Linked DNA regions of Homo sapiens. The protein of the gene in region 2 purifies or fractionates together with the protein of the main gene of each other region. This does not show direct contact. Each region holds a gene or a part of one and is shown on either strand. Other genes may lie near its edges.

The links.
Region 1: the proteins of PUM3 (region 2) and LIN28B purify together in Homo sapiens (affinity purification with mass spectrometry; one large-scale study listed by BioGRID and IntAct). This does not show direct contact.

Annotation. Positions count from the first base shown.
Region 1 is NC_000006.12:104,955,569-104,959,321, reverse strand, and holds the start of LIN28B (protein lin-28 homolog B), read right to left. Parts: upstream 2,216-3,753; 5' UTR 2,072-2,215; coding exon 2,062-2,071; intron 1,224-2,061; coding exon 1,036-1,223; intron 1-1,035. UniProt on the Homo sapiens protein: Suppressor of microRNA (miRNA) biogenesis, including that of let-7 and possibly of miR107, miR-143 and miR-200c.
Region 2 is NC_000009.12:2,823,465-2,827,117, forward strand, and holds part of PUM3 (pumilio homolog 3), read right to left. Parts: coding exon 3,609-3,653; intron 1,352-3,608; coding exon 1,253-1,351; intron 371-1,252; coding exon 317-370; intron 1-316. UniProt on the Homo sapiens protein: Inhibits the poly(ADP-ribosyl)ation activity of PARP1 and the degradation of PARP1 by CASP3 following genotoxic stress. Binds to double-stranded RNA or DNA without sequence specificity. Involved in development of the eye and of primordial germ cells.

The DNA.
Region 1 (3,753 bases), on a different chromosome or scaffold from region 2:
TTAACAGCCTTTCATTCAATTCTTTTTAACTTAGATTATCATGCCAAAATAAACCTCTTTAGTCGTAAACCTCTTTATTTCTAACTACAGAAAATTTATATTTACCTTTTTTTGAGGAAACAACCGGCTTCCATAAAAGTATCTTTTTTACTATAAAGGGATTAAGCAGTAGAGAGGAGTAAAGGCAGAAGTATTAATTCATTATTTCCTGGGTAAAATTTTGAAAATGGGAAGCAATGAAATTCTGTTTGGTATTAAAACATCTTTAAAAATTACAACACAATACGAGCAAAGGTGGAAATTTACCCCAAGTAGCAGACCAGCACATTTTAAACACACAAGCAAGAGCCGCCTCTGGCCACATGTTTTTTTGAGTTCAGTCTCTTAAAGAGACAGTATACGTAGACCAATGACTACACGGAGCACATTTCTAAAATGTTTATCAAGCATCCCTCTATTGCACGCATTTCTTTACAACCACATTAGGCCAACAGTGTTCTATTTTATTTTACTATGAAGTCAAATTATTTTGATCTGAATCTACAAAATGATTACAGGACAGGCAGCGATGAAATAATAAAGGGAGCTACTGTGACTAGAGGTGTCTAAAATAAGGCAATCTATACATTTCTTTCCACAGCAAACTGTTTCGCTTTGTTTTTTCAACCTTAAAATGATCATGTTTCTTCATTTTTCTACCCATTCACCAGATACAGGCGACAAAGTATATTGTATAGGTAATACCGGAAACAACAAGAACACTATTTCGCTGTAGAATGAAGCAGGGGGAAATGCTAATAACGTCAACCTTAATATATATAGTGAAATTTCAAATATTTTCTTTTCTCTTTAGACAGAAAACCCAGGAAAAGGCCCATACACGTACCCTAAACGTTGGACTACCTAGTGATTTCAGGGAAGATTTTGTCTTTCAATATACCGAAGGACATCTTATCGTACGTCTATTGGCATAACTACCGATCAGCTCCTCCACATGGAAAAAGATGAAGAGGGGGACAAAAAAGTTTGGCTTACTTGGTGTACAAATACATCGACTGGAATATCCAAGGGGCTTCCCTCTCGGTTTATCATGGAGATGAATCCAAATCCCATGCGCACATTGAACCACTTACAGTGGCCAGTTCCGCGCAAAACCTGGGATTCCTCCTCTGCCGGCTCCGGCAGCTTCCCGGGCTCTTCTCCACCACCTTTGCTAGCCCCGCCTGAGAAGGAACAGGACAAAAAAGTCAGTCTGTATTCCCATTCAATGTGCATTCAAAGATTAAAAAAAAAAAATTGCCTGCCTGGGGTTGGGGGGGAAGGGTAACAGAAAAAAAAAATTTTTTTTAATGGTTTGATTTCTTTTCTCCACAGAAAATACTTAAAATGAAAAGGGTTAAAAGGAAAGCGGGGGAGGGGGAAGCCACACTGTTCTATCGATCACACCAACTTCCACGTTTCTATACATACGTGTACTTATTCATTTAACTCCATTTTTCAGCCACATTTTACATTACAGCATGCGATACTTTACTTGTATATTGCTGATTTAATACTGATCCCATTGACAAAGAGAAATTTTCAGCGAAACTATTCTCTCCGGCGGGCACGAGGAGGAAAGAGAAATCGTGAAGATGGTTTAGAGCTACTAGTTAAGGCACATGGGGCAGCACTGAATCCAGCGTTATTTGCAATGTGCATTCCCCTCCCCCCCATAACTTTCAATTAAAGTTGGGGTGGAATGGGGGAGGGGGCAGGTGTATAAAAGTTTTCTTGGAATCACTAACTGAAACTGCGCTTAATCACACTCACACAATTCAAACAATAGCCCCCTGAAAGCTTTTCAAGTTGTGAATCAGTGTGGGCGGTACAAAACATTTTTGGAGATCTATAACAATAGGTTTGCAGAAAGCCCCACTGCGTGATGGGGGGTTGGGAGGTAATGCCCAGTATTGGGGTAAAAGGGGAAGGGGGGGACGGTCTAAGAAGGGTGGGAGAGGGGGAGGGGGAGGAGAAAAGAAGAAAGAAATTCACAGTAAAACAATAGAAAAGAAAATTAACCTTCGGCCATGTTGCCCCACGGGCCCTCAGCTCCAAACTCGTGAGATGAAAACTTTCCCTTTGGAACGGAGTGATCTTCTGCATCAATCTAACATCTTGATTTTGTGCGATCACAAATTTAGCTCGCATGGTCTAATGTGCTTTCCTTCTTTTGATTTTTTTCTCTCCTCTCTCCAGTTTCTGGCCCCCTGAGCACACGTGACTTTGTCAATTACATGCTTTCTTGCTACTAATTTCACCTCGTATCCTTAAGGGGCTGGCAAGAGGAAGAGATAACCAATCGCCATTTCATCTATGCTGACATCAAAATAATTTATGAATGAACACGAAAAACTCAAACATGTTATCTTAAAGACAATTTGGAACGCTTCTTTAGGATAAATCAGAATGCTGATTTCGTGCTTCTACTTAAACACAATGGAGGGACCTTGTGAATCATAGATTTAGAAAAAAAGGCAGTCATATATGTGCACACGCGTGCCTTACACACAAGCCTGACTAAAATCATGGGAGGGGGTCGTTTAAATAAAACAACCGATGTTAACGCTTTTTTTCCCCTTAAGAATTCAGCTATTCCATGGCAGTAAACCTGCTTGGAACGCTAATTTCATATTTAATTCAATTCTTAGAGGAAAATATATAATTTATAAAAGATCTAATTAAACCTAATTACATCCCCATGAAACTTTAGATAATGAAAACATACACCTAGGAAAAGGCAGAGGCACATAAATTACCTGATTATGCCCGAAATTTTTTCAAATTTAAAATAAAATCCTACTAGAAAAATCGTTTTCACCTTCATATAGTCAAATTGTGTTTAGGTAAACCATTTTGGAAAATTTTAGAGGGGGTTGGTAAGGAATTGTACTTCACAGGTTTCTCTGCCATCTCTTTCCGGGGGAGGAGATGTGATTAATGACTTCCTAAATAACAGCCCAGTTTTCCAGCCTAACATAGAGTGAACCTCAATCAGTGGCGATTGTTCCCCAAGAGCTGGAGGACATAGGGCAGGAGGGGGAGGGGATCGCCAGGCAGGGGAGGTGAAGAGGAGCCGCCAGGATAGGCGGCAGCAGAGTCAAAGAAAGAGGTGGGAGAGAAAAAAAGCCGGCGCGGGCAGGGGGTGGGGTGGAGAAAGAAGGACAAGTGGGAGAAAAAAGGTAAATTCATATCATATTGACTTGTACCCTGACATTTTAAAAGTCCACTACCAATGGCTAGAAGAGTTGAATAAACGAAAATGTAACAACGGATGAAGCTCCTACTGTCCTTCCTCAACTGACCCCCAGTTTCAAAATGCCTACCCCCTTTACCTTTCAAACTGGTTCAAACGATTGATTACAAGATGCTGGCAACAGTATTTCTGCCCTTATCGAATACTATAATAAATATTATAGATTAACTAAAAAGACTTTATTTCCTTTAAAATATAAAATATCGCTATTTTAAAACCTTAAAATGCACCACCAGACTTGCCTACCCCACCCCCCATTTTCTTAAACAAGCAGTTTACCAAGAAACTAACTGTTCAGATACCACTTCCTTCGACAAAGCTACCGAGTTGACCCTCCCCCACCATGCCAGCAATCCCCCTCCCAGTCTCTTCAAACACATCCACACTCCAGCACTGTTTCACACAAGCTAAAATGTAGGGATTATGAATCGAAGAGCTATGGAAAAAGCTGTATACAC
Region 2 (3,653 bases):
TTCCCATATTTAATTAACATGACTGGACAAATTCACCAAAAAAGCTAGTAAATATCAGGTTTTCAAAGAATATCTAATAAAAGTAGAGAACTATCACAATACAATGTTAAATTAAAAAAGGAGAAAAGAATGCATGTGACATGATTTCCATTTTGTGTAGATAAAATATGAAAATACATGTAGATGCAAAGAAAAATATAATAAAACAATAATTTTCTGCTTGGTAATTTTCTGAATTTTTCCAAATTTTCTATAATAGACATGAATTCATCTTACTATCAAAAATAATTAGAATATGTAGTTTTATTATACTTACATTAGCCACCTTTTCAACATAAGTCTTCATTGTTTTCACAATCACTTTCCTGTCCTTAAAAAGGAAAGATTGTCTCACTGAATTTTCAGTTATGTATTAAGGGTATTTTGTAGTTAAACATTTTAATATAATATTTATTAAGTTTTCATTTGAGTGGCATATGTTTTCATTAGTAAAAATAATAGTTATACAGCCAGAACAAAAAAACTGTAATATACCAAAGAAGTTGGCTTAGAGCTATTACAAGCTTAGATGTGTATGTGATAGGGTTAGGGTTAGGGTTAGGGTTAGGGTTAGGGTTTGCAAGCCACCTTTCACAGTGAGACCAGACAGATCCTTCTTCCAAGGTCTAAACTGTCCTCAAATGCAGAGTCTAGCAAACAGTTAGTACTCATCTGCATTTGTTGAATAAAATTAAATTTGCATTAAAAAAAGTAGATATAGTACAACTATCTTTTAAAGGCAGAATTATGCTGACCAAGGAAATAATGATAATTTCTGTTAAACTTCTGTGATTAATAAGGATCTTTACCTTTTCCCTCAAGTACATAACACCTATGGGAGCAAATGTGTGTGGCCAGCTGTTTGTTATCTCTTCCCATTTTCCCCTGCCACAGTATGATCATTAAAAGAGGAGGTACCAAAACCTCTATAAACTAAAGCTTAAATACATATTATGTTTACTTGCTTGATAGATCTCTTCCCATCCTTTAATGAAACTTCAAGGTTTCTACTAAAGCAGAGGAAAGAAGAAACACTAGGCCTAAAGAAGATGGCTCATTCCCATCAGGCTCTAAGGCACAACTTTTGGAAGATAATGCACAACAGGGCAAAGACCAAAGGGGGTTAAAAGTCTAAGGACAGCTAAGTCAAGCCTGCAGATAAAGCATGGCCCTGACTTGTACAGTTTAAATGCCCAAGTGCTGTCACACTTACCTTGGGCGTGCCATGCCACAGGCAGTGCATGGCCACTCTGGCGCCATCGTGTGTGTGTGCCAGGTAGACCACCGCTTCGCGGATGGCTTCAATCATTTCCTAGGGAACAAATGCTGTCAGGAACAGGGCTCTGCTTTATTTTCTTCTTTCTACTGTTTTATCTGTCTGTCTACAGGGGGCAGTTATGCAGAGAGAAGGAAAGGAAGAGAGTGCCAGGTAGCAAACAATTTCATTTTGTAGACAATCAAACAGAAACACGAGCTCTTTCTAGAAATGTTCTTTTCCATCAAGAGCAGTAAATACTGCTGGCAGACAATATCTATTAAAAACAATACCTGACTTTTACCAATGTCTGTTAAAAAAAAGGTCAAGCTATATGTGTAATATAATATATTCTAAATAATTTTCCAAGAAAAAGAAGCCTAGGAGGTGGTGGTGATAAGAAGGGAGCTTTTAACAGAATAGCGAGACAAAGAAAATGCTCTTCCCCAAAAGAGACCTGTATGCAATAAACAGAATCAAAACACTCATTTTGACTGAAAAGCTTCCCTTTTCAGTTCATAACTGGATTATCTCCAAAAATCACATTCTTTACCATAAACACGCTTACATAACATTTCCTCATGAAAAATTTCTATACTAACATTTAGACTAAGACCTCACCTATAAAATGACCCTTTAGTAAAAAACATTTAATTTCTCACTAGGTAGCTTAGCTTAATTTAACCTTTAGCCTTCATTTTCCATGTATATAATTTCTTATTTACATTTTCTTTTTTTTTTGGAGACGGAGTCTTGCTCTGTCACCCAGGCTGGAGTGCAGTGGTGCCATCTTGGCTTACTGCAACCTCCACCTCCCAGGTTCAAGCAATTCTCCTGCCTCAGCCTCCCGAGTAGCTGGGGCTACAGGTGCCCGCCACCACCCCCGGCTAATTTTTGTATTTTAGTAGAGACTGGGTTTCACCATATTGGCCAGGCTGGTCTCGAACTACTGACCTTGTGATCTGCCCGCCTCGGGTTCCCAAAGTGCTGGGATTACAGGTGTGAGCCACCGTGCCTGGCCCTATATTTTCAAAGTCTAAGGCATGTAGGATGTAAATGAGTTCTGGCAACTAACAAGTGCAGAGCTCCATTTTAGTCTATTCCCAATTTAAAAATGTACATTAAATAAATACAAAGCCTCATGCCACGAAAGAGAGGGTAGGTGCCTAATTTCATCAATAAGGAACAAACAATTTCAGCCTCAAGTATCTAACAATCCCTTCCCAAGATGACTCTCAAGAGCAGTTTCAACTAACATATCTGAACTTAGGAATCTCTTCAGAGCTATCCAGATGGAAAGCCATGCATATATTCCAATTATGCTTCCATTTTCCCCGAAGGTTTTTTTTTTTTTAAGTCTCTTTTGAAAATGCCCCCAATACCAGAAAAGACAATTTGTCTCATTACTTTACACGCATGCTAAGTTCCAAATGATTTTTTGCTGTTACTGAAACATTCAACACTAAAAAGATACTTTCTACCACTGAATATATTCAAATAATCATTGTGTCATTTCTGAGCATATAGTCCTGCCTCAGAACCGTGGGATACTGTATTTTTCAGGAAGTAAGAAAAATCTCCAAAACAGAAGGTGCTGCTATGGTCATCAAACCATAAGCTTACGTGGGTGGCTACCATCAGGAAATTATTTTGCATGCCAATTTTAAGAGGGTCAAAACTCCAATGAATGTATAGTCTGGCGTTATTTGTTAAGTCAGTCTCATTATTTTCATTATCCCTTGTGATTGGAAAATGAGGACAAATGGACAATGAGCTCACTGTATGATGAGGCAAGCAAAGTTCAGGGAACTAAATGATGAATTCTCATTTGTATTCCCATGACTGACTTGAAGGGCAGTGCAATTTACCTTCACTCTGTTCTTCTATGATATAAAGTCCAGGTTTTCATCGTCCACTTAGTTTTACAAACATATCCTCCTCTAACCTTTTAATGCCAAGCTAATTTTTTTTTTGTATTAGCACAGTTGAATTTAAAACTATCCGAATGCTTGAATATTCCTCCACGAGTTAGTTAATTTTCAGATTAGGTTAGCCAGCGGATACTCTCTGGATTATAATTAAGATATAAAAATTTAATATGATTAGTAAAACTAGGGTCAATTCTATTGTTTACTGGAATAAAACCTAAATGGAATTAGCAAACGTGTTCAAAGGGAGTTGAGTAAATTATCTTCCCTAAATAAGGAAGCAACTCTAAAATTTCCACAAGACAACGTACATCAAAGCAGTTTTTCAAATTTCTACACCGCTCCTCCTCCATGTTTTAGTTTAAAAACAAAAACCAAGAACTTACTGATCTGAGTTTGGGGGGTGCATAGGTAAAAAAGTCCAAGAATAC